2 linked regions of the Homo sapiens genome follow. Changing the gene in region 2 together with the main gene of any one other region gives a genetic interaction. Each region holds a gene or a part of one and is shown on either strand. Other genes may lie near its edges.

Region 1 (3,500 bases), on a different chromosome or scaffold from region 2:
TTACCTGGAAAGATGGTTTAGATTCTGACAAGTTTTCACTAAATCATACTTGGTTTGTATTTTAAAGTCTAAAACATGACCAGTCCTCAAACTGTAACTGAGATCTACATTCTGAAGATGTGACTATGGTCAGTTTGCTGGTCCAGTCACCTTAGCTAATCAGACTGACCACTGAGGGAGCCTAGACACCTTGAGGGAAACAAAAAACCAATAGAACTATAGCCCCTCCCACTCCTCCTCCAACCAAAGTCAGAATGCCCATAATTACCGCCAGGGCGTCGCCTGATGATGAGTTTTCTGACTTCGTCATATACGAAGATGAGAAGAGAGTAGGGGAAGGCACAGAACCACCAGGTAGGTCTGGAAATAGAGTAAGGTACCAATTTATATGCACACGAACACAGTTCAAATAAAGAAAGAGAAATTGCACATCACCAGTGACAATGAAATAATCAGCCTGAAAGGAGAAGCCAAGTACAGTCACAGTTAACTACTGAGTCATTAACAGAACAAATAAAAATGTCTTAAAACAGATTGCTACTCCATGTGCCCAGGGCCTAGAGACGCAGAGGAAATCAGTCTGCAGACTTTGTAATGGAATCCCTACTCATCTTCAGTTTGGATTTCATAAGACTTGGTTTATAGGATGAGCAGAGTACTTTTCTGTTAACCATCCCAGAGCAACTGAACATTTTCTTTCTTTCATTTCTAAAGTGTTTAAGAAGCTTTTTAAGACCATCTGCCTAATATCCCAGCATTTTGAAGATAAAGACCTGCCAGTGTGGGTCAAAACCAGTTTATGCATTCCCCAAATTTGATCTCTGACAACAGCATTTGGGATATCAGCTCTGTGTTCTGAGGCCTGGTCCTGGGGACTGAAAAAAGCTGAGCCCGAAGGCTTCCAAGGGGCCTGGAGGCTGAGCCACACAGTCTCTAGCCTGCTGACAGGCTCCAGGCAGCCTCCGTGATCACCAGCTCCCTGCTATGGTGTGAGAAAGGCTGTCCCTGGGCAGGACTCCGGTGGTCTCCTCTTCTTCCTGTGTGTCTGACAAGGCAGCTAAGAGAGATGATCTCATTTGACTCAGTCACCGAATAACTGAACCACCTTCCAAAATTGGGCAGAACCTGTCAGAACAATCTCTTTGGTGGTGGCAAAAAAACCAGGGAAGGACCCAGAAGATGGAAATGCCCCCTTTTCAGTGTAATTTTCCACCAGCCTTTTTGGAAAGCTCTGTGACCTCTCCAAGCCCCATCTTGATACATAATGGCCCAAGCTGACAGAATTCAATTTGGAGATGGCTGGCCCCTGCTGTACACCAGCTTTGTGTAGGGAGCTGGGGATGCACAGAGAAGAAAGACACTGTGGCCCATGCCTTCTAGATTAAAACCTAGCAGGGAGGTGAAATGACAAGCAACAAGTAATGCCAGAGAAGAGGTGCAAGTGCACAGGCCCTGGAGGGACAAGCTCCAAGGAAACCGGCCCTGAAGGGACTATCAGGATTGGCAGGGTAAGAGGGAACAGAAGGAGGGATGTGGGGAGGAAGGATCTTACCAAACACAAAGGCAGAGGAAGAAAGCCGAATTCACCTAACATGAGCTTGGATGGGTAAGGGGTACAAGAGAAAGCTATAAAGACAGGTTGGGACAATGAGACTGACTCTGGATGCCAGTCTCATCTTGCACCACAGACGATGTCTGCACATAACCCACAGGAAGTGAATGAGGCTGATGGGTTTTGGTTACTTTAGGGATAAGATGAGCTGAAGGAAGTGCTGGCAACAGGGGATTGAGAGATGGTCCAGACGGGTCTGAGCAAGGATGAGGACAGCAGGAATTCAAAGGAGACTAATGCTTTAAATCAAAAGCTTCAAAGGAACTTGTAAATGGGTCCCACAATCTGTGGCTTTGCACGTTTTAATCAAGTTGCAGTTGCTTAACCTCAACCAGGTATCACCAAACATACTCAATGTTGCAAAAAACTAACGGAGTTTGTGATAAACCCTCTTTGAAAATTCAAGTTTATCTGAAATGCAGAGTCATTCACTGTGTTTAAGGCCAAAGACTAGCAGTATGCTTCCTTTGATCAACTCTACCCATGACTGATTATAAAGTAAAAGGGACCTCAGATCTGTTTCTCCAACCTTCTTTCTTTGAGAGCAGAGTATTCAGAGTCTCAGAAAGGTGGATGACTTGTAATGGGACAGTGACTAAGCAAGCAAATCAAGATTTGAGCCTGGGCGCCTACGCTCCAGCATACCCCCAGTTGGCCTCTAAAGACAACTGGACTACAGCTGTGGCAGACCTGAGTGCTCAATGCAGTTCGCTGTTGAGCAGTTCCATGGAGCTAGAGCCTGTGTGGCTTTATCTTATCTTGGGCCAAATCCTAAACACTAGCTGCTATCATGGAAGCCTCAGGATTTGTTAGTCTGATTTACTGACATGTCAAGCTTTCACAGTTTTCCAACCCATAGGAATTTTTGTACATACCACTCAAAATTCTGAAAATAACAACTATTACCACAAGTAATGGGGGGAAAAGCCACACATACTATTTCATACTTTTTGGAGCTACCAGAGGATCAACTTACTTGAGGGGATACATCCTAAGAGCAACACCCATTCCAGGGCAGTAGGAAAGGAAAGCAGCCAGGGCTGTCTCTTCAAAGAGGCCAAATATCAAGATCTTGTTCCTAAAATCAAAGTAGGGGAGAAAAAACTTAAAAGGTGCAAATAAAGGTTTATCTTCTAATGCTATGCATTAAAATGGCAGATCAACATCTTTATGTATTAGCTGTACTTGAAAACTTGGAGGTCAGATGAAAAAACTAGAAAGCTACATTTCTTGCTTCCTAAATTTGCTCTATAAACTAGAGATTCCAGAAACCTGGCTATATGTGTCATATGTTTAGTTTTTGGCAAAGGGTTTACAAATCACCAGTCCCCTTCTTTGAGCCAAGGCCTTGACATGTCCTTCATTACTTACTTCATCCCCTGCTGGAAGACCGAATTCCTCCTGGTCTTACAGATGACCAAGTCGGCCCACTGCACCACCACGATACTGACGAAGAAGGCTGTGTGGCAGGTGAACTCCACGATTTTCCTCTGCTCATAGGTCTGAAATGCAGAAGACAGAAGATGAGCTCTGGCTCTTCACCTGCATGGCTGGTGGCAGTGTGGCCTCAGTCTTCTGGGGCTTGAGGAGCTCTGACACTGGTCAGGTCAGAGGTGCCCACTCACCCACTGCTGCCCGTAGCTGTCTTCCACATCGTTGATCCAGCGGTCATCCCAGTCCACTCGGAGGCCCAACAGGTGAATTGGGAGGAAGCCGTTCTCAGCCAGAATCACAAAGTAAGTAAAGAAGCCTCCCAGGGCCTGGATCATTCCTAAGTTGGGAAAACAACCCAATTACTAGAACCTCACACACAAGGGTACCTGTATAGCCTTCAGCTGATTACTGCAGCAGGCCTGGGAGAGCACATATGGAGGAGTGTTTCCCCCTG
Region 2 (3,500 bases):
GCTTTGGCTTTTTGTCCTAGATAGTCTTCTTATTCACTTTTCCCCAAATTTCAATCAGTAATTTCATTTAGCAAATGTTTACCAAGAACCTACTGGACATAAGATGCTCAGCCAGACTTACTGGGTGGTACTCTAGAGAGGCAAAACTCCAGGTTGGTTGTCCTACAAATAATCCCCAAGAAAATGATATGAACACAATAAATGCAATGAAATCTGCTTGCAGGAAAGCATAAGAAGCCAGAAATGAATTACGACCAACTGCAAAAAGGAACAAACTAGTAGAAGCACTAAAATTCAATGAGAAGATAATTTTTAAAGTGGATGAAATTGAAGGTGCATGTAACATTATCACAGATTTAAAATCATGCATATTCTCCATAAAACTTTTCAAATGCAGTTAAACACACACACACACACACACACACACACACACACACACAAAACCAAGCAATTATAAGTCCTCTGAAGCATGTAACTGTGATTAGCTGCTACTCTCAGCAATATAAAAATACTTTCACCACAATTACATTCCAGCCTGTAATGTAATTCAAAACAAACAAGTCAGAGACATCGCTCAAATGACAGAACCAACAAATACAGATGCTTTGCATCAAGGAAATGAATCTACTGAAGAAATGCAACTGAGGAGCAGCAGCCCCTCCAGGGCCTGGAGCTGAGCTTCTGGTGGAACGGCGAGGCCCCCTTCTGGGCAGAGGCACACAGTGCGCCCAGAGGGCTGTGCAAAGCTGCCCTGTAGTCATGGAGGTGAACTGGGGACTTCCTGCTGTGGATACCCTTTCCAGTGTTGTGTTCAAAATTTTACATTTTAGATTTTAAATTTATTATATGGATTATAAAAGAAATAACCATTTGTTTCAGATTAAATTGATCATTCTATTTTTCAGTCAGCATTCTCACCACCAAATGGCACCTATCCCCTTTACCCTGTGTTCCTTTTGCTTTTTGCCATAACTCTTATTGTCCTCCAATAAACTGTGTAATCTATCATATCCATCTCCCCTTGCTAGAATATAAGCTCCATGAGGGTGGGATAATTTGGTTTTTTGCTCAATAACAATTGTCCCATTTATGTCTTTATCTTTTAAGACTATTCATCTTCAAATAAGACATAAATAAGGTTTTATTATAGCAATATGCTATAATTTTTAAGTGACAACTCAAGCACTTGTTTTAAAAGTATGCATTTTTTCTAAATGCTTTATAAAAGCAAAGTCTTTTCTAAGGACCATATAATTATGGTCTCTATATACACAACTTATATACAATTTAGAGAGAAGTCACAGCCCCCAGTGCCCTGGAAGAACATCGTAGCTGCAAAAAATGAAGAATCTGATTCTGAAATGCCAGTCCTGGAGAAGGTGTTCTCAGGGTGGCAAACTGCAGTCCAAACACACTCCAGGTCCCTGGGTCTGGCCACACATTCTCTAAGAAGTCAGCACTTGCCTGGACTGGGCACTTGTGGCTAGAAGGGTATGCACTACTTGCTAATTTCTAAAACCTCAAACCTTAATTTTCCCCCATCTTAAAATGGGAATCAGCTTCTGGAAAAGCTAATAACTGTTTACAATTGTCAGACTTCTAAAAAGTGCTAATTTGTTCCCTTAACAGAGCAAATGATGAGAGACACCATTTTCCTGCAGATTAAAAACAATATATAAACATATGATTCAACGATGTCAACAGCTTTCAGTCTATGAATCTTGTCCAGGTCACTTTGGGTCACTTGGTTCTTTCATCAGAACATGTTCAAGATTTCTGACATTCCTTTTTCCGAACTTTCGATTTTGGTGCTGTGAAAAGAATAGAAAAGAAAAAGAAAATGAAGAGGTAAGCTCATAGCAGATTCTCTTTGTATGGATTTAAGGGAAGGACATTATCCACAACAGAAAACTGACCATTTGGATTTTCTTGTTTGTAGAAGGTCTTTAACATTTCCACTGCTTCCTCAGCCCGATATCCAGGGATACACTGATGGAATGAGAAAGTTGAGAATAAACATAGGCCTATGAAAATGTGTGCTGTATCCCATAAAAACAACATATATATACATGATTATGTAAACAGATTTCAGATGTTAATAAACTTTGGGGATATTAGTAACATGGGTAAGGAGGTACACTTCCAAAAGATGTTTGATATATCATCTTTTTCATTACTCCCAATCAACTGTTATTAGGCATCACTCCCAATCAACTGTTATTCATCCATTAACTATTATAGAAGTTACCAGCTTTGTGATCTTGGGTTAGGCACTTAAACTCTCCATGCCTTATTTATACAATGCTGGCAATAATAGCACTTACTTCAGGGGATTTTGTGAGGATTAAGTGAGATAATACCTGTTAAATACCAGGCACATCATAAGTGCTCATTAAGCATTAGTTATTTTTATCTGCTCCTATTTACTAGTGGTCCATTAAGCATTCCATGCTATAGAGCTAGGGTTGGCAAATTATACTTGGTGGACCAAATCTGTTCCATAGCTGAGAACTGTGAGCTAAGAATGGTTTTTATATCTTAAAAGCTTTGTTAAAGAAAAAAAAAGACTAGGTGACAGAGATGTAAGCGGCTCACAAAGGGTGAAATATTTACTAGTTAACCCTTTGCAGAAAAAGTTTATCAACCCTTGCTACAGAGGATTTTAAAAAATAAAATACAGCTTGTTCTATCTTTAGCATCTAACTGGGGAAAAGAAATCATAACATGTGAAAGAATAAATAAGAAATTGTGCTAACAGTAAGGAGTGTTATATGAAATATTACCTGAAGAACATGAAACTTGAACTTGCCTTAGAGATAGAGAATATTTAAAGAGGCTAAGCAGAGCATTTCAGGGAAAGGGCAAGAAGAAGCCTGGGTTGTGTGTGAGGAAATCAGCTGACAGAGGAGGAGACTATTAAGGAAGCATAAGGAAAGAAAGACAAAAAATTGGGGTAAAAATATGTACGGCTTTGAAAGCTTGTCAGAAGAGTTTGGACTTAAAACCAAGCACCCTTCTGAAGTGCATGAAGTGACACAATGAGCATCTGGAAGGAAGGAGCCAGAAAGCATAGGCACAGAGGACAGGAGGACCAGCTACTGTGAGATGCTGTTCAGAACGAACCTCCCATTCTCCTGTGTCTTCAGTCTGCCCTTGCCTGGGCCTCCGACACCTGCATAAACCTTCGCCATAACAAATAACCTTCCATCCACCCTGTCCCGTCAAAGGCTGACACCCTGCTCCTGCCTTCACTCCTCAGTGGCCTCATCTTCACTGGCTTGAGTTCCCAGCACTTCACTGAGTCTGCCCTCTCAGAAATCCCCAGGTCCCTACTGACCAAAACACTTGCCTCCTTTCAGATTCCTCAACTCTGCAGTCCTGGAGGCAACTGGCCACACCTGCTCTGTCTGACCGCTCTTGCCTCCCTTGGCTTCTCAGCATTTTACCATCCTAACCACTGCCAGCCAGTCCCGTCACAGCTGCCCCCTGCTTCCTGCTGT

Evidence for each region. Genes that interact genetically often act in the same process or in processes that back each other up.
Region 1: changes in ADAT2 (region 2) and ATP1A1 together harm fitness less than expected from each alone (positive genetic interaction), as found in Homo sapiens cells (one large-scale study listed by BioGRID).

The regions. Positions count from the first base shown.
Region 1 is NC_000001.11:116,400,744-116,404,243, reverse strand, and holds part of ATP1A1 (sodium/potassium-transporting ATPase subunit alpha-1), read right to left. Parts: intron 3,384-3,500; coding exon 3,238-3,383; exon of another isoform or gene 3,115-3,237; coding exon 2,984-3,114; intron 2,691-2,983; coding exon 2,589-2,690; intron 361-2,588; coding exon 269-360; intron 1-268. UniProt on the Homo sapiens protein: This is the catalytic component of the active enzyme, which catalyzes the hydrolysis of ATP coupled with the exchange of sodium and potassium ions across the plasma membrane.
Region 2 is NC_000006.12:143,426,696-143,430,195, forward strand, and holds part of ADAT2 (tRNA-specific adenosine deaminase 2), read right to left. Parts: intron 1,990-3,500; coding exon 1,917-1,989; intron 1,812-1,916; coding exon 1,768-1,811; 3' UTR 1-1,767. UniProt on the Homo sapiens protein: Probably participates in deamination of adenosine-34 to inosine in many tRNAs.